Homo sapiens: one gene and its partners. The protein of the gene in region 3 interacts with the protein of the main gene of each other region in a biochemical or structural test. Each region holds a gene or a part of one and is shown on either strand. Other genes may lie near its edges.

What was found. The genes of interacting proteins can lie anywhere in the genome.
Region 1: of the proteins of BTRC (region 3) and DEPTOR, one has a biochemical effect on the other in vitro, tested with the Homo sapiens proteins (3 studies listed by BioGRID, with this or other methods).
Region 2: of the proteins of BTRC (region 3) and CDC25A, one has a biochemical effect on the other in vitro, tested with the Homo sapiens proteins (3 studies listed by BioGRID and IntAct, with this or other methods).

The regions. Positions count from the first base shown.
Region 1 is NC_000008.11:120,002,694-120,009,726, reverse strand, and holds part of DEPTOR (DEP domain-containing mTOR-interacting protein), read right to left. Parts: intron 6,751-7,033; coding exon 6,616-6,750; intron 2,923-6,615; coding exon 2,852-2,922; intron 699-2,851; coding exon 594-698; intron 1-593. UniProt on the Homo sapiens protein: Negative regulator of the mTORC1 and mTORC2 complexes: inhibits the protein kinase activity of MTOR, thereby inactivating both complexes. DEPTOR inhibits mTORC1 and mTORC2 to induce autophagy.
Region 2 is NC_000003.12:48,157,413-48,164,445, reverse strand, and holds part of CDC25A (M-phase inducer phosphatase 1), read left to right. Parts: intron 1-8; coding exon 9-139; intron 140-4,990; coding exon 4,991-5,102; intron 5,103-5,360; coding exon 5,361-5,501; 3' UTR 5,502-7,033. UniProt on the Homo sapiens protein: Tyrosine protein phosphatase which functions as a dosage-dependent inducer of mitotic progression. Directly dephosphorylates CDK1 and stimulates its kinase activity. Also dephosphorylates CDK2 in complex with cyclin-E, in vitro.
Region 3 is NC_000010.11:101,553,155-101,557,836, reverse strand, and holds the end of BTRC (F-box/WD repeat-containing protein 1A), read right to left. Parts: 3' UTR 524-4,682; downstream 1-523. UniProt on the Homo sapiens protein: Substrate recognition component of a SCF (SKP1-CUL1-F-box protein) E3 ubiquitin-protein ligase complex which mediates the ubiquitination and subsequent proteasomal degradation of target proteins. Recognizes and binds to phosphorylated target proteins.

The DNA.
Region 1 (7,033 bases), on a different chromosome or scaffold from region 3:
CTTAGGGAGAAAAAGTACACATGGCACCAAATAATGAAATTAAGCTAGAGGTATTTAGACACTGCTAAATGTTGTTTTGTTGTTGTTGTTGTTGTTTTGTTTTGTTTTGTTTTAGAGACAGAGTCTCGCTTTGTCACCCAGGCTGGAGTGCAGTGGTGCGATCTTGGCTCACTACAACTTCTGCCTCCTGGGTTCAAGCGATTCTCCTGCCTCAGCCTCCTGAGTAGCTGGGATTACAGGTGTGTGCCACCACGCCCGGCTAATTTTTGTATTTTTAGTAGGGATAGGGTTTCGCCACGGTGGCCAGGCTAGTCTTGAACTCCTGACCTCAAGTGATATGTCTGCCTTGGCCTCTGAATGTGCTGGAATTACAGGTGTGAGCCACCGCGCCTGGCTAGACACTTCTAAATGTTTATTAGAGGAGAGGGAAGACCCAGGGAAAGGTTAAAGACTTTGGAGAACAAGAAAGAGAGGGCAGAAATAGAAAAGGACACAAAATAAGATGGGTTTGGATCCCTAGTAAGAATCATGGCCAATTTAGCATGAAGAACCCAAGACAGATATAAAAGAGGGTGAGAAAGACCCGTTAGTACCTTCATTCCTGCTGCGGCTGCAGGGCCACTGGGGTCTACAGCCTGGATGTGGCATGGCTTACTTCCTCGCACCACAAAACCCCAGCCAACCGCGTCACCAACAATCTAGAGAGGAAAACCACAATTAGCAAGCAGCCGACTGTCTCCGGCAATTTGCTTATTCTTCTGAGGGAGAGAAAACCAGCCCAGGATTAAGTATACACTGTGACATATTTTCCTCCGTTTCTCTCTTCCCTGCCAGGGGATTGGAACACTGCTTCTATCACAAACCCGGGCATCTCCCTGTAGAAAAGGTGGTAAAAAAAATCTAACCTGTTTGGCAGAAAGAAGATGCTCCCATGAGGGCATGATTCAATAAACAACTGGAAGATTTTCTCTTTCTTAGGCTGTTATACAATTTAATGTCAGACTCCAATAGAAGGTTTAGAAAAAGTCGTAACGTGGTTGAAATGTCTCTCCAGATACAATTTCTGCTCTAAGTTTGTTCTTTTCCCCAGTATCCAAATGATACACTCTTGATCCTGCAACGTCATTGAAGTCTAGCATAATTATTGAAATTACTAATGGTGGGAAATAAAGAGACCTGGCTTTTTTTTTTTTTTTTTTGAGACAGAGTCTTGCTCTGTCACCCAGGCTGGAGTGCAGTAGTGCAATCTCAGCTCACTGCAACCCCACCTCCCGGGTTCAAGCGATTCTCCTGCCTCAGCCTCCTGAGTAACTGGGATTACAGGCATGCAACACCATGCCTGGCTAATTTTGTGTATTTTTAGTAGAGACAGGGTTTCACCATGATGGTCAGGCTGGTCTCGAACTCCTGAGCTCAGGTGATCCACCTGCCTCAGCCTCCAAAGTGCTGGGATTACAGGCGTGAGCCACCATGCCCAGCCTCCACCAAGGGAGCCCTCCACCAAGGGCTCCACCATGCCCCTTTCTCCACCAAGGGGGGAAAAGAAGTGAAAAAGTACATAAAGTTCACAATGTACAAGTAGACTCTAATCCAAAAGTTGTTTGGAATTAGAGAAGGCCTTTTCTATAGAAATCATTATTAGAGCTGGCAGTTTAATTCCCTGGACAGCTCCTAGCCACATCTTTCACACATATCCCAACCAAAACACAGCTGAAACACATTCACAATCAATTACTAACAATGTTGGCATTTAAATTAAAAATCAAAAATAAATACTTTCAAAATAACAATCTACCTCTCTTGAATGCTGGAGACTGAGGAAAAACAGGGAGGCAAATGAAAATTTTTGTGGAAATGCTCAAGATTTTCAGGCACTTCCGTTACTTTACAGTTTGCTGTTATTTGTATATTATACTCAATTTCACTTCCGAAGGTGGAGTTTATCTTTTCCTCTGGTACAGACATGTTGTCAGCGCCTTTCTCCTATTAACTCCTCAGCATTCAGAATGTGAAATAGCCCTCAGCAAATGTTTGCAGCATGACTGAGTGTGGATAGAATTCTCCCCCAGCCTGAGGCAATGCCACTAAAGTTAGAAGATGAAGGAGGAGAAGTGTTTTGAAGAGGGTATGAACGTGAATTTGAGGAGATTGACAGAAGGAGACACAGGAAGGGGAGTGGGTGCGGTGATGCTGAAAAGAGCACTTTCATTCCATTTGAAGAAATCCAACGTAGGCATTAGGAACCTAAAGGACCTCCAAGAAGGGGCAGGTGGTCCGGAGCTGCTCACAGCAAGTCAGAGGCTCGTGTACCTCAAGGCATGCACACATTGTCGAAGCACCCTGCCTACGGTAGAAAAGTTTATCCCACAGTTTCCTTTCTCTAGCTTAACACTCCCCTAATGTTTTAAATAATTTCTAGAATTAATCCTAATGCAGAAGGGATTATTGGCATCATTTGCACTTCCATTTGCCATAAAATCTAATAATAATTTAAATGACTAATGGTGGGAAATAAAATCTAAAATTATTAGATTTTAAGGTAAATGCAAGTGCAAATGATGCCAATCTTGAAATTTGCAATTAAATTAGAATAAATGCATAATGGAAATCTTTTCTTTAACAAAGAACACATCAAAAAATTTTTAAATGGTATATTAATAATAACGCATGTGAAGTCCTAATGCACCTTAGTGCCTTGAGGTCAAGAAAGCCTAGTATCATAATTACGCTAAAAACAAAAAGAAAATTAGAAAAGTAGTTTTCATTTCAGTCTATAAGCTACCCATTGACACATGGACACGGTGCAGAAAAATGGGCAGCACGGGAGAAAAAGGCCAGACCATCAGCCTACCGTGAATGTCTTCCTTGCATACGGAGCCCCGGGAGTAAGGAGTTCCTCAGAGGTGACAGGTCTCTTCAGCACTGGCAGACAAACACAATGTCAAGACATAAGCACTTCCAAGTCCTCTATCCATGCATTCAGCAGCTATTTATTGATATCTCGTAGGTGACCATCAGTGAGAAAAAGTGGCAAAGATCCCTGCCTCACAGTTTATATTTTAGCTGAATGGAGACAGTAAATAGCAGCAAACATAAATAACCCTAAACCTACCTTACAAAGCTAAGGAAAAAAAGAAAGAGAAGGAAAGCAAGAGTGCCAGGGGTGGGGATAAGGGGGCAGGTCAATTTTTTTTTTTTTTTAAAGACGGAGTTTTGCCCTTGTCACCCAGGATGGAGTGCAATGATGCGATCTCGGCTCACTGCAACCTCCGCCTCCTGGGTTCAAGCAATTCTCCTGCCTCAGCCTCCTGAGTAGCTGGGATTACAGGCACCCAACACCATATCTGGCTAATTTTTGTATTTTTAATAGAGACAGGGTTTCACCATGTTGGCCAGGCTGGTCTTGAACTCGTGACCTCAGGCAATCTGCCTGCCTCAGCCTCCCAAAGTGCTGGGATTACACGCATGAGCCGCCCAGCCTCACTTCCTTCTTAACACCTAGGACTGCATGTACCCACTGCTTTCTGCCATGAGTAATAATGCTAGTGAACTTTTCTGAGTACTCAACATATGCTAGAGAGGCACCATGTGAGGTGAATATATTAACTCACTTAATCATCACAAGAATGAATGAGTTAGGATCATTGTTATCCCCATTTTATAACTGCAAAAACAACCTTAGAAAAGTTAAATTGATTGTGTCCAAGGTCCCAGAGCGAATGGGTGGCAGAAGTAGAATCAAACTCAGGCATTAGACACCAGCACCCACACTCTCAGCTACTGTGCCACATTTACTCTGGGCCATGCTGTCCTGCAAGCAAAAGAAAGGGTCTAGAAGCTCAGGAAGATAGTGGCATGCTGTCCTCCTGAGACACCCGTTCACATCAGCTCACTGCTGTTGCCCACCAAGATGGCAGACAGCAGCCAATTCCTGACTTGCGGCTGCCTAAAACCCACCGATAATGAACCCCCCCATCCATCCTGTGCTCACTAAGAACTGGAGAGGGGCTGTCGTATCCTCCCCAAGTAGCCAGGGGGTCAGGGGACAGAGACCATTCTAATCCAGCTCTGCAGACATTGTGAACTTGAAGTGCCACAGAGAAACAGAAAAGGCCCCAGCCAAGGGGCCTAACCTGGTGAGGTGGCATCCTCCGATCCCCTTTGCTAGTGACAGTCAGAGGCCAGGTACCAGTCCTGGAAAGAGTGTGCAGCAGACAAGGAAAGGCAGCGTGGGGCAAGGCGTGATGATCTACCAGGCAGCTGGACCTCGCCCACTGGTTACATGAACGGCCTTCTGGCCTGAGAAGCACCCTCTCAGTGAAAGGCAATCCAGTGCTTCTTGTTGAGGTGACAGGTTGCTGATCTTATCACCTTTGCTTTCAGAAATCTCATAAAAGCAAAAATTAATTTATGTTCGCCAAACAAGAGGGAGTAGGTCAAATATCAAGATGGAAACAGAATCTCTCAGCAGATGGATGGGAGGTAAGAAAAGTGGTCAGTATTTGAGGACTGAGATCTTTTTTATTCCCTGTCAGGTAACTCTCTCTCCACTCCCCATAAACCCTCAGGGGGCTTATGAATTTGGATACATGAATCACACTGTACTATTTGGCAGCAGAGCTGACCATTCATTTTAATGCACTTCTCTTTATTATGTTGAAAAATATAGAAACTTTGAGGCCTAGGGAAAACTTTTTTCTTTTCATATCCTTGGAAGCTTATTTGCTTATCACAATGATACTGATAACATCAATATCTTTAGTACTGTTTTTTGTGTCTGGCTTAGGGCATTTATATACAGTACTAAAAAAACATATCCTGGTGTATTTCAGATAATTAATTTTTAAATGCATCACTGTGAAGGCCTGATCATCTGCTTGAGAAAAAAAAATCACAGATGAACTCACTGGGTCTTGGGAATCCTCTTAAGAGTGAGAGAGAAGCTTGTCAAACTATGGGTAAGAAGTGGAATTTACAAACCACAACTCAGTCCTGACAGCTCTTGTCCTTGGGGACCCACGAAAGGAAACGAGACCTTTTTCTTCTGCCTGCATAACAGTAAACTCTTCCCTTTGACCCAGAGGCAAGGAGAAAGAGGAAACATGCTAACCTACCTCAGGGAACATGGATTTTGTTGCTAATTTCAGTAATTAACACTTTTTTCATACTCCATCATAAGCAATCAAAAACTTGTAAAATGGTTATGGCACCACTGACCCTTTTATTGAAACTGAGATCTTTTGCTTTTAACTTTGAGGATGCCTGTCAGATTTCTACAAAGGCTTCAAACATCCCATTTCTAAGAATTCAGTTCTCCTTTTTCATTCTACTTTAGCAGCAAGCTCCAGTAATTGAAAAACCCAGTACTCAACGACTCTTCAGCCAGGACAGTATGGAAGCAAGCTTCTTCATTCACTTACAGGTTACATTTATTCCTGCTGCTAACACTCCAGAAGGCAGCAAAAAAAGAAAAAAAGTTAGATCAGGAAAAAGAGCCACCTTCCTAGATAATACCATTAGATGACAGAGTTTTCTCTCAAAGCCTTTTGAACTGCATCAATTAGTGCTTATTCTTACTAACATGAAATGTTTTGTTTTTTTCTCCAAAGAGGTGGTGTTTTCATTGAGTTGGGGGTTATGACCTGTCATCTTTGTATCCCCAAGATCTGATGATGAGGAAACAACATGAACAAAAGGAACAGAGCCTCTTCCTCGAAGGTGACAAACTGAACTGGGGGTGGACAGTGCCTTAAACAAATGGGTTTGAGAGTGTTCTCTGGCGGTTACTGTAGTGATGGACCACACATCCTCATCCTGGCAAGTGAGGACATTAGGTGGGTAAGGGATGGTGAGAAAGGGTAGTTTCAATGGATTACCAGTTCCTGGGTGGTTGATGAACTGATTGGGTGGAGGAAGGATTGTTTCTAAGTACATGTTCACCAACAATTTTGTGCCTAGATTTTTTTCCTGGAATATAAAGGCCATGGAGGTTGATGAGCAGATTTTGAAACCACAAGACACCCAGGGTCAATTCCAGGGATAGCTGGGTTTGCACACATCCATGCTTCTTCCTTAAGGGTGTTGGGCCCCAACAGATCTTATGCATCGGCTGCATTCTGGGGAAGTGCTGTTTCCCCTGCTGTGAGCACTGTCACATACTGCCCAAAACACCCTTCAGGGCTCAGGGACTTCTCCCAGCTCCGAGAGTGCTAATGGTGACAGCCCTCAGCTGTCTTGGAGACCATCTCTCTGAAGACACCTGCTTTGCCCAAGGTCATGCCCTCCTCCCAGGGGCAGCCAATACCTAATAAGTGGCCAACATGTGGATCTAAAGGCCCAGCCCCCTCAACACAACTCCAGGCAACTTGGAAGGGCCATCCCAGCTCCAGAGGTCTTACTGGGTCAATGATAGCCTTCATTGAGACTGGGCTACAACCCAATTTCTCCTTCAGCCCAATTCTTCCTTCCCTTCCATTCAACACGTGTGGACCCCAAGAGCATGCTCTAACTTATTAGAACCCACACACTAGTCTCCCGCTATCTCAGATTCTGCTTCCCAGGGACCTGCCCAAGTCCCCACAGTCTTAGGAGCGGGGCCACCTTTTGGGCACTCACCGGACTTGGGGTTGCAGAGCACAGGGGGGCTGCTGCTGAGGGTGGGGCTGCTGCTGAAGTAGCCGCTGCTGCCACAGCTGCTCATGCTGCTTCTCCTCACTGCAGACACGATCTTGATCTCCTTGCTGGGGCTCACTGTGTAGGCCAGAGAACACACACAGTCACCAAGGGGGTGGTCTCGGCTCACTAGAGCACATAGGCTTTCAACTGCAAGGTCCAGAGGGGCCAGGAGAAAGCACACTGGTCTTAGTGGCAGAAAAACAAGAACTTGAGTTGCAGCTCTGCCACTTACTTTATATTATATATATATATATATATATTTTTTTTTTTTTTTTGAGATGGAGTCTTGCCCTGTTGCACAGGCTGGAGTACGTGACACAACCTGGGCTCACTGCAACCTCTGCCTCCTGGGTTCATG
Region 2 (7,033 bases), on a different chromosome or scaffold from region 3:
CTTCACAGGGTGCAGTGAACTTGCACATGGAAGAAGAGGTTGAAGACTTCTTATTGAAGAAGCCCATTGTACCTACTGATGGCAAGCGTGTCATTGTTGTGTTTCACTGCGAGTTTTCTTCTGAGAGAGGTCCCCGCATGTGAGTGCTGCACGGAACTGGGTTCTGGGGCACAGGCTCCATGATGCTTTTGTGGGACATGGTGGTTTGTGGCTTGCACTTGGAGCATATTTTAGCATATCAAGCAACCTCTGGCACATAACAAGCCATTTTCATATGTAATTTTATCCTGAGGTGAACTTTGGCTCTTCCAGTCTCCCCGACTGTCCTTAGTCTGATCTGTGGGGCTACTGTTCTCATGTGACCTCCTTCAAGTACAAAGTGACCGTTCCTTATGCAAATGCCAGAAAAGTGTGAAGTTCTCATTCTGTAAAACCTCATATGATATGATGCTTTGAAACACTTGATATTATTACCAATTTCAGGGTGAAAAGAAAAAAGGGGGCCAAAGAGCTGCCCATCAGTCATCTGTGTCCATTCTAAAAGGATTGCAAGCCTGCTGTTTGTCAGGCACTGACAATAAAAATGTAACTACAGTAAAACACAGTACAGTAAAAATACCACAGCGAGCAGGACCAACAAGGACCCTACTGCAGCAGAGATCCAAGTGGGGATCCGTATAAATGCTAGGAGGACAGGCAGAGAGGTAGGACAGAGAGTGCAGCTTAACTAGGATGGTCCAAGGGAGACTTCTGCAGGACCACGTTCTTATGCCACCTTTTTATTTTGAACCAATTTATTTTAAAAAACATTTTTAAATTAAAAAATTTCAATTTTTTTTTTTTGACGGAGTTTTGCTCTTGTTGCCCAGGCTGGAGTGCAGTGGCACAATCTCTTCTCACTGCAACCTCTGCCTCCCAGGTTCAAGCAGTTCTCCTGCCTCAGCCTCCCAAGTAGCTGGGATTACAGGCATGCGCCATCACGCCCGGCTAATTTTGTATTTTTAGTAGAGGCAGGGTTTCTACATGTTGGTCAGGCTGGTCTTGAACTCCCGACCTTAGGTGATCCGCCTGCCTCAGCCTCCCAAAGTAGTGGGATTACAGGCGTGAGCCACTGCACCTGGCTTTTTCTTTCTTTCTTTCTTTCTTTTTTTTTTTTTTTTTTGAGGCGGAGGCACACTGTTTTCACCCAGACTGGAATGCAGTGGCATGATCTCGGCTCACTGCAACCTCCACCTCCTGGGTTCAAGCGATTCTCCTGCCTCAGCCTCCTGAGTAGCTGGGATAACAGGCGTGCACCACCACACCCGGCTAATTTTTGTATTTGTAGTAGAGATGGGGGTTTCACCATGTTGGCCGGGCTGGTCTTGAACTCCTGACCTCAGGTGATCCACCCGCCTTGACCTCCCAAAGTGCTGGGATTACAGGTGTGAGCCACCACGCCCAGCAGAAATTTCAAATTTTGAGATGGGGTCTTAATATATTGGCCAGGTTGGTCTCAAACTCCTGGCCTCAAGCAATCCTCTCTCCTTGGCCTCCAAAGTGCTAGGATTGCAGGCATGAGCCACTGTGCCCACCCCTTTGAACCTTTTTTTTTTTTTGAGACGGAGTCTCGCTCTGTCACCCAGGCTGGAGTGCAGTGGCACAATCTCGACTTACTGCAAGCTCCGCCTCCTGGGTTCATGCCATTCTCCTGCCTCAGCCTCCCGAGTAGCTGGGACTACAGGTGCCCACCATCACGCCTGGCTAATTTTTTTGTATTTTTAGTAGAGACAGGGTTTCACCATTTTAGCCAGGATGGTCTCCATCTCCTGACCTTGCGATCTGCCCGTCTCGGCCTCCCAAAGTGCTTGGATTACAGGCGTGAGCCACTGCGCCTGACCTGAACCATTTTAAAGCTCAAGAAGAGGTGAGGTTATGGCTGGGCACAGTGGCACCTGTAATCCCAACACTTTGGGAGGCCGAGGCAGGAGGATCACTTGCTCGGGAGTTTCAGACCAGACCAACCTGGGTAACACAGTGGGACCACACCTCTACAAAAAATAGGAGGTGGGAGGATCGTTTGAGCCCAGCAGGTCGAGGCTGTGGTGAGCCATGATCATGCCACTGTACTCCAGCCTAGGTGACAGAGTGAGATTCTGTCTCTCTCTCACACACACACACACACACACACACACACACAAAGGTTATACTTGCACACACTTCACCTGATTTTATTAATTTTTAACATTTTGTCACATTTGTATGTACATGCTCTACACACAGGCAACTACAGTACAACTTGACACTTTTGACTGTCATCTCATAAGTCCTTCAAACATCTGTCTCCAAAGGATGCTCATTCATGAATGGAATTATTCACTCAGCAGTTTTTTTGTTTGTTTGTTTGAGATGTAGTCTTGCTCTGCCACCCAGACTGGAGTGCAGTGGTGCGATCTCGGATCACTGCAACCTCCACCTCCCGGGTTCAAGCAATTCTCCTGCCTCAGGCTCCCAAGTAGCTGGGACTACGGGTGCATGCCACCATGCCAAGCTAATGTTTGTATTTTTAGTAGAGACGGGGTTTTGCTACATTGGCCAGGCTGGTCTCGAACTCCTGACCTCAAGTGATCTACCCGCCTCAGCCTCCCAAAGTGCTGGGATTATAGGCCTGAAACAAACTAATCTGGACACACATACACACACATGTAAATTGTTTTTAAACCCACAAAAGATGCTGCTCTCTTTTTTTTTTATTTTTGAGTCAGGGTCAGTCTCTGTTGTCCAGGCTGGAGTACAGTGGCAGGAGCACAGCTCACTGTAGCCTCTGCCTCCCAGGCTCAAGTGATTCTCCCACCTCAGCCTCCCAGGAAGCTAGGACCACAAACATGCATCACCATGCCTGGCTAATTTTTGTATTTTTTATAGAGACAGGGTCTCACTGTGTTGCCCAGGCTGGTCTCAAACTCCTGGGCTCAGGCAATCCTGGCCTCCCAAAGTGCTTGGATTACAGGTGTGAGCCGCCATGCCCAGCCCAAAAGATGCTATTCTCTTAATCTCTCATTTCCCCATCTTCCTCTTTAACACCTCTAATATAAAGGACATTATTATACCATATTGAAACTTCACCTAGATATACAGAAAACGCCCCATCTCTGTATTCTGTATTTGCAAGCTGCATGTTTATATCACCATCTACAGATACCCCTTACACTTCGTTCCCCACTTGAGTTTCGCCATCACTGGCTTTCTGTTGTTCCACTGGGGAAAGATTTGGGATTCACAGGTGAACTCTTTTTTTTTTTTTTTTTTTTTTTTGAGTTGGAATCTCGCCCTTTCGCCCAGGCTGGAATGCAGTGGCACAATCTCGGCTCACTGCAGCCTCCTCCTCCCGGGTTCAAGCATTTCTCTGCCTCAGCCTCCCAAGTAGCTGGGATTACAGGCACCTGCCACCACGCCCAGCTAATTTTTTGTAGTTTTAGTAGACACAGGGTTTCACTATCTTGGCCAGGCTGGTCTCGAACTCCTGACCTCGTGATCCACCGCCTCAGCCTCCCAAAGTGCTGGAATTACAGGTGTGAGCCACCGCGCCCAGCCAAACTCCTTTTAACCACAGGCAAATGGTTTAAGCTACGTGCTGCAGAGGAAGCTGCTGCCCATCCCTCATGAGCAGCTAACAAAGGCCCCAAACCACTGAGCTTCAAGAGAAAATCAGCAGATACTCTTGGCTCTTGTGTACCAGATACCTTTCTAGATACTGAGGGAGAAGAGCAGTGAACAAAACAGACCAAAAAATCTCTGCCTTCATGGAACTTACATTTCGGAGTGGACAGGAGATCGAGACCAGCCTGGCCAACATGGTGAAATCCCGTCTCTACTAAAAATACAAAAATTAGCCAGGCGTGGTGGCGGACACCTGTAATCCCAGCTACTTTGGAGGCTGAGGCAGGAGCATCCCTTGAACCCAGGAGGCAGAGGTTGCAGTGAGCCGAGATCGCGCCAGTGCACTCCAGCCTGGGCGACAGAGTGAGACTCCATCTCAAAAAAAAAAAAAAAAAGGTGACTGGGTGCGGTGGCTAACTCCTGTAATCCCAACACTTTGGGAGGCCAAGGCAGGTGGATCACAAGGTCAAGAGGTCGAGACCATCCTGGCCAACATGGTGAAGCCCCATCTCTACTAAACATACAAAAATCAGCTGGGCGGTGGCACGCGCCTGTAGTCCCAGCTATTTGGGAGGCTGAGGCAGGAGAATTGCTTGAACCCGGGAGACGGAGATTGCAGTGAGCCTGAGGTCACGCCCTTGCACTCCAGCCTGGTGACAGAGTGAGATTCTGTCTCAGAAAAAAGAAGGTGCTTCAGAGGAAAATAAGGCCAGTGGTGGAGCTCCCAGGCAGGCTGGAGGAACAGTAGTGGGGCTGCAGGGGCTGGCGTGGGGTGAACAAGGGGCAGAGCAGCAGTAGGGGCCTGTAGAGCTGTAGGCCTCTGAAGGACTTGGGGCCTCGGGCTTTTTCACCAAGGGCGAGGCAGTAAGCAGCCATTGGCTGGATATTGAAGACCATTCAGTCCAAGTAGAGGATAGAAACAGGGCCCCGAGGCAGGAGCAAGTTCAGCCTCTTTAAAAGCCACAGAAAGAAACAAGCCCACTTATGTAGAAGGAGGTGAGTGAGGGAGCCTGGCTGAAGAGAAGGCTGGGGTGGAGAAAGCAAGGGGAAGCTGGCTCATATAGTGAAAACTTGCCACAAACTGTGGTGGTGAAGGTGCTGGGCAGGACTCAGATGCTAGGATTGTTGGAGAAAGGAAAATTGGGGAAGAGACCATCTACTGGCACTGGCTGTGAGTGCTGCTCATGTGGCCAGGAACTTGCAACTCAGCACTGATTGTTTCTAAGAATAAATGTCAAGTTGGGAAGATGTGTATAAGGGGGACTTAGACCACAACTGCTGCTTTGACTGCGTTGCCTTGTTGCTGTGCTGGAAAAGCTAACCCTGCTTTGGCCTTCCTTCCCCTGACTAGGTGCCGGTATGTGAGAGAGAGAGATCGCCTGGGTAATGAATACCCCAAACTCCACTACCCTGAGCTGTATGTCCTGAAGGGGGGATACAAGGAGTTCTTTATGAAATGCCAGGTAAGACTGGGGTTGTGGAGAGCATCTCTCCTCCCCTGCCCCCAGTGGTAGACTAATGGATCTGTCTGGTGGTCATGACTTTCTTTCCAGGGGTCGGGGGACAAGGTGGGTATCTGCTGAACCCAAAGAAAGCCCCTGTAGAACTGGCTCCCTAGGTCTGCCTGGCCGCTTTCAGCCTTGTAGCCCTAGGCAGAGAGGAAACCAGGTTGTGGGTGTGAGGCAGGTGTACCCTAACCTTATTCTCTCCTGTCCCCTCAGTCTTACTGTGAGCCCCCTAGCTACCGGCCCATGCACCACGAGGACTTTAAAGAAGACCTGAAGAAGTTCCGCACCAAGAGCCGGACCTGGGCAGGGGAGAAGAGCAAGAGGGAGATGTACAGTCGTCTGAAGAAGCTCTGAGGGCGGCAGGACCAGCCAGCAGCAGCCCAAGCTTCCCTCCATCCCCCTTTACCCTCTTTGCTGCAGAGAAACTTAAGCAAAGGGGACAGCTGTGTGACATTTGGAGAGGGGGCCTGGGACTTCCATGCCTTAAACCTACCTCCCACACTCCCAAGGTTGGAGCCCAGGGCATCTTGCTGGCTACGCCTCTTCTGTCCCTGTTAGACGTCCTCCGTCCATATCAGAACTGTGCCACAATGCAGTTCTGAGCACCGTGTCAAGCTGCTCTGAGCCACAGTGGGATGAACCAGCCGGGGCCTTATCGGGCTCCAGCCATCTCATGAGGGGAGAGGAGACGGAGGGGAGTAGAGAAGTTACACAGAAATGCTGCTGGCCAAATAGCAAAGACAACCTGGGAAGGAAAGGTCTTTGTGGGATAATCCATATGTTTAATTTATTCAACTTCATCAATCACTTTATTTTATTTTTTTTTCTAACTCCTGGAGACTTATTTTACTGCTTCATTAGGTTGAAATACTGCCATTCTAGGTAGGGTTTTATTATCCCAGGGACTACCTCGGCTTTTAATTTAAAAAAAAAAAAGAAGTGGGTAAGAAAATGCAAACCTGTTATAAGTTATCGGACAGAAAGCTAGGTGCTCTGTCACCCCCAGGAGGCGCTGTGGTACTGGGGCTGCTGCTATTTAAGCCAAGAACTGAGGTCCTGGTGAGAGCGTTGGACCCAGGCTTGGCTGCCTGACATAAGCTAAATCTCCCAGACCCACCACTGGCTACCGATATCTATTTGGTGGGAGGTGTGGCCCTGTTCTTCCTCACCCCAGTTCCATGACATTGGCTGGTATAGGAGCCACAGTCAGGAAAGCACTTGAGGCAGCATCTGTTGGGCCACCCCCGGCTCAGTGCTGGAATGTTGCAGTGTAGGTTTCCCAGGGAAGGGGGGTGGGGGTAGGTGGGCTCCACAGGATGGGGGAGGAGCATGTCCACTGAGTATCTTCCTTATGTTGCTGTGATATTGATAGCTTTTATTTTCTAATTTTTAAAAAATGGTCATATTATGAGTCAAAGAGTATCAAATCAGTGTTGGATGGACCACCCAAGGGTGAGGAGAGGGGCTGGAAGCCCTGGGCATTAGGAGAAGGGAGTGGGTGCTGGCATGGACATGACTGGATAGAATTTTCTCAGGAGGGAGCTTGGTGGATTTTGAAGGTAAAACTTTCTGGGTTTATCATGTTTTAATTTTAGAGACAGGGAGTGATGAATCATCACCGGTTGTCCCCTTATCTAACTCCATAAAAGTGGGAATTTCAAAAGAACACCTCATCCAAGGAGCTGGGGCAGACTTCATTGATTCTAGAGAGACCTGTTTCAGTGCCTACTCATCCCTGCCCTCTGGTGCCAGCCTCCTTACCATCACGGCTTCACTGAGGTGTAGGTGGGTTTTTCTTAAACAGGAGACAGTCTCTCCCCTCTTACCTCAACTTCTTGGGGTGGGAATCAGTGATACTGGAGATGGCTAGTTGCTGTGTTACGGGT
Region 3 (4,682 bases):
GAGATAGTCCCATTCGGCCACTGCCTGCAACCTTGTACCTCTCCAGGTTTGGCTGAAGGAGGGAAGGGGGGTTTCACTCAAGAACTGCAATGTCATATCCCAGATAGTCAAGGGTGCCTTCATTCTTACAGCTTGTTGGAGCCCCTCTGGAAATTGCTCCCAGATGTGAGCTTGCTTGCCTATAAACTGATCAAATGGGATGTAGGGGAAACTCAAGTCTTTTCACAGCTGAGGGGCAGAGAAAAATGTAAATTCTGCATTCAGGTTGGGCTGTGGTTGGCTAAGGTGACCAATGCACAAATGAGACATGACTTTGGCTTCAATTTAACTCAACATGGAACAGTAGGCGTAAGCCAGGGACCCCACACTCATCCACAGCATCCAGCCCTGCTTTCTCTCAATCTTGTTTTCTCATGTCAGATTATCTGCAAAGGTATTCTATCTCTGCACTCCCTCAGTCTGTATACTGAAAAGTGTACTGCCCTTCTGGATGCTGGGGCAAGGAGACAAGACGCTTAGAAAATTCACTTTAATCTTATATTTGTAATTTACTTTTTTTCTGAACAGTTAAAAAAAACCCAAAACACACTCCATTATCATGATCCTAGGTTGTGAACATATTGGTACACTGACTACACATCACCATAACATAATCACAAAAGTCAAAGCAGTCAGTACTTAAGAGTCTAGAGAACAAAGAGGTGAACCAGCTGAAAGCTCTCGGGGAAGCTTACATGTGTTGTTAGGCCTGTCCCATCATTGGAGTGCACTGGCCATCCCTCAGATTTGTCTGGGCTGGCCTGAGTGGTCACCGCTTTGAGAAAGCTGTTAGTTTCCTTGGTGCCCAGAGGGCTAACACCCTAGTTGGCCTTTTCCTTCAGTGTCCAAGAAGGGGAAGGGTTAGGAGGGGAGGTAACACTTTAAAATACGACTTAACTGCACTGATCCTTAATAAAACACACAACCAATCAGGAGCTAAGAGCGCCAGCTGTGCTGGTTGGAAAGCACATATTTTAGATGTCATCTGCCTCCAGGACATTTTAGATCACAGGTACTCAACTTCCAACAGAAGGAGCTTCTAAAGATCAATGCATTAAGTTCCACCTGAAACCAGGCAGCCATCATCATGCTCTTTTGATTTCTCTCTTCAGCTCCAAGGATTCTGACACCACAGATGAGCTAAAGAAGCGAAACTGTTTTATTCCCCTAAGAAATGGCTCTCTTTCCGATACTATGTTGACACTGTGGTTAAAGGAGGTCTGGTCTGTTGGTGAACAACTGTGTGGAGGAAGACCAGGGAGGCTGCACCCTAAGCCTCCGGGCTGCACTAATCTGGGTTGGACTGCTCTGCTACAGACTGGAGGGTGTTGCCATCTAAGGCAAAAGGGAGATGCTGAGAAGGTCAACAGTACCAAGGTATCTAGTCCAATTATGGGAAAGAAAAAAATTGCCCTGATTATTTCCAGTATTCCCCACCCCTCCCACCTTTGTTTCCCCACACAATCAAGTGCTAAGTAAGGAGTAGACCAACTACAGCTGTTCAGACCAATGGTACCAGGAGCCGGCAAGGGAAGAGTGCATTTTTTTTTCTCTGTAGCTTTAGACTGTACAGAAGAAAAATAAAAAAGGATTGTTCTTACTCAAGCAAAAAAACCAGAATGATGTAGGGGTCTCACAGACTTTTCTAGTTCGGAAACAAGTTATGAGGGCCAGACTTTTATTACTTGTCAATAGAGATCCAAAAAGAGTCCCTGTCTCTGAAGTTAGGAGACACCAGAAAGAATTTTGCCAAGGGACATGTACAAATGGCCTTCCATCCATGATTCACATCCTTTCAAATTGCACACCAAGTTAAAGGATGTTCTCAGCAGTGAAATACACACACGTGCAGCAAGGCATGCTGGTCTTGTCCAAGTAGCTCCAGTGTGCACCAAAAGGTCACGTGTCTGTACCTCCTCATCTGCCTTTGAAGGGGTTTCAGCCTGTCTTTAAGAAAGGTTTCCTTTAGGCCCTACGTTGGAAAGTAAATTTTAGTGAGAAGAGACTAATCTACAATGGGGACACCTTCAGCTCTGTTTCTACCACTCCTTGGAATGTGCTGAGACTTTGTCTCTCTTTTCGTTTTAAAAAGGTCAAACTTTACATTTATTCTAGCCCAGTTGGGGATTAGTGATAATCAATTCCCACTGAAATCATGCAGAGATGGTAAGTGGGGTTTACCTTCTCTGGAAATGAACTTTTAACTTACCTGATTATTTCTTCTACAACAAACTGGTAAATGACCCCCAGAGCTGAGAAATGTGAACGATTCAAGTTTTTCAGACCACTTAACTTCATTCCCATTTCCATCAGCAGGAGAGAGGACAACTTGGAGAATATCCTCAACTGGGCTAATGGCTCCACATCTGCAGGGGTCGCCCCGATCTCCTTTGTGATGTACTGGACATGTCTCAAAACAGTCTTAGAAACAATATTCCTTCAACTGAACCTAGATTGGAGAGCAAAACCCTGGGCACCAATAAACATTCAACAGCTTCCACTTTGTAATAGCAGCATATGACAGAAAGGCTGGTAAAATTATGGCTATTGGGCAATATTTTGAGACAGCTCGAAACCCATGCCTTTTAAATGTCTGACCTGTGTGTTTTTCAGGGCTGACAGCCCTCTACCTTCATCTATAGCAAAATCCTTACCCAATCAAAAAGCCATTAATAGTCAACACAATAGATGACGAACCCTGATAGTGGCCAAGTAGAAAACATTTCTCTGTAGCATTTGGGTAGCTGGGAAGGGAATTACATTGAGAAAATATTTCTTAGGCTACGATGTATCATTATACTGGGAAATATTTTCTGAATATAACCTTGAACTAAAAGCTTAAAAATACTCATAAAGCAGGAAAGGTAGAATGCATATGCATAAAATGACTCTCAATATGTAGTAACAACATTCAGTGGGTACACCTTGGGAAGAGGATACCTTCTTGCCTGGGGAGACCAGCTGGGTGCACATTAATAGTATTCTGTGTGCTCCCAGGTTGGTGTGGCACAGGTACCCTTGCACCTGAAGCCCACTAGCTTGGCAGCTCACACAGCTGCCTTCCGAGTGACTGGGTTTGCCTGACCCTTGCTGAGGTCCAGCTGTTTATGCTGTTCACCAATCGCCACAGACGCTTTATTGGCTGGGGAGAGTGAAGAGCAAAATAAGGTCAGGAGGAGGAAGAAAAGGCAGTTTTTGCCCCATTAATAAACCCTGTGTGCCAAACTTCACCCTGATCCTCTCTCTTAAGCAGCTTTGCCCTTCTGCAAATACTGGGTGTGGGAGAAGCAGAAGGAAGGTTGTGCAGTGCAAGGTTGACACGGTGAGATCAATATTTGAGAGATGATATTTAACTGGCCAAAACAAAACAAAACAACAAAAAAAACAAAAACAGTGTTTTCTCCTGACCATCTCTCTTAAGCTACCTTGATCACGGTCTTGGCAAAGATACAGGCACCTGGGTATTCACAGGCCCTGATGAGGAAATCGGAGATGGAAACCATTACGCAGAATGCACCAAGCGATTGGCTCTGGCCATTTCAAATCTTTCTGTAGGCTGAGCCTTACCAGTGATTTAAGATGAAGTACAATGCTTTTTATTACACACCCAATTGTTAATGAGAGGAAATGCAATCAGCAACTCCTTTCCACACTCTACATGGAATCAAGGAGACTGCTGAGTCCAGAAAAGATGCAGCCATTGATGGAGCCCAGGAAACTTCTCCCCACCCCCTCTGCCTGCCCCCTACCACCAATCCTCCTCTTGGGTGTGGGGAAGAAAGAGAGAGAAGAGTTGCAAATATGATGAGAGTATCATGTCTGAGAATCCACTGTTGCCACAGGGTCACTTGCAGCAAAGGCCTGGGGCTGAAATCTTCACTGAACAGCATTTAACTCTTCCAAGTGTTGCATTTTCTGGCTGATCTGGCTCATGTGAGAGGAGGACACTCTCTTCGTACACTTTCTTCTCAGGTGAAGCAGACAGAGAAAAAAGGTTGAAGGGGCGTAGGGGAGTAGATGGGAAGAGGAACAGAAACAAAGAGAAGGCAGGCAGGAGGCCCAAATCTTCCAGTGTATACATTCTTGTGTTTTCTTTTTCTTGTCCCAGAGGCTATACAGAGGGAACTCTGTCTCCTCCTAAGCATATTGGGGCTGGGCTGCTCTGGCCAGGTGCTTGGCATTCCTGCAGTTAACAGGGAGACACTGGGCACTGGGCTTGAAGCTGCATCCCCCATACCCTAGAAGTGGGTCTCTCCCAGCAGGCTATACAGGGAAACTAGTTCTTCTGCTTAATGGCAAAGCAAGAGAGATTCTGGCAAAACACTAAATATATTTATAAGTCACCTTTGTCTGGAACCAATGGGAAAAAACTAGGTGCAGAGGTGAAAGGAGGAGAGGAGGGGAGGTTTAAAAGTTCCAATCATTCACAAAAGATAGAAGACATCTTCTGATAGCAGCACTGAAGCAGTCAGTTGTGCTGAGTAGACCGTCCTGGGCCGACTGCAGACCAACTGTGTCCCAACAGGAGTCTCAAAGCCCTGCTCCTCGGCTAGTCCAGGGAAACTGGGCAGTAGTTTGATTGTTACTGTTGTTGCTCATCCTGGTATTGGCAGATACGTTAAATACCGCAACTTTAATGGGTC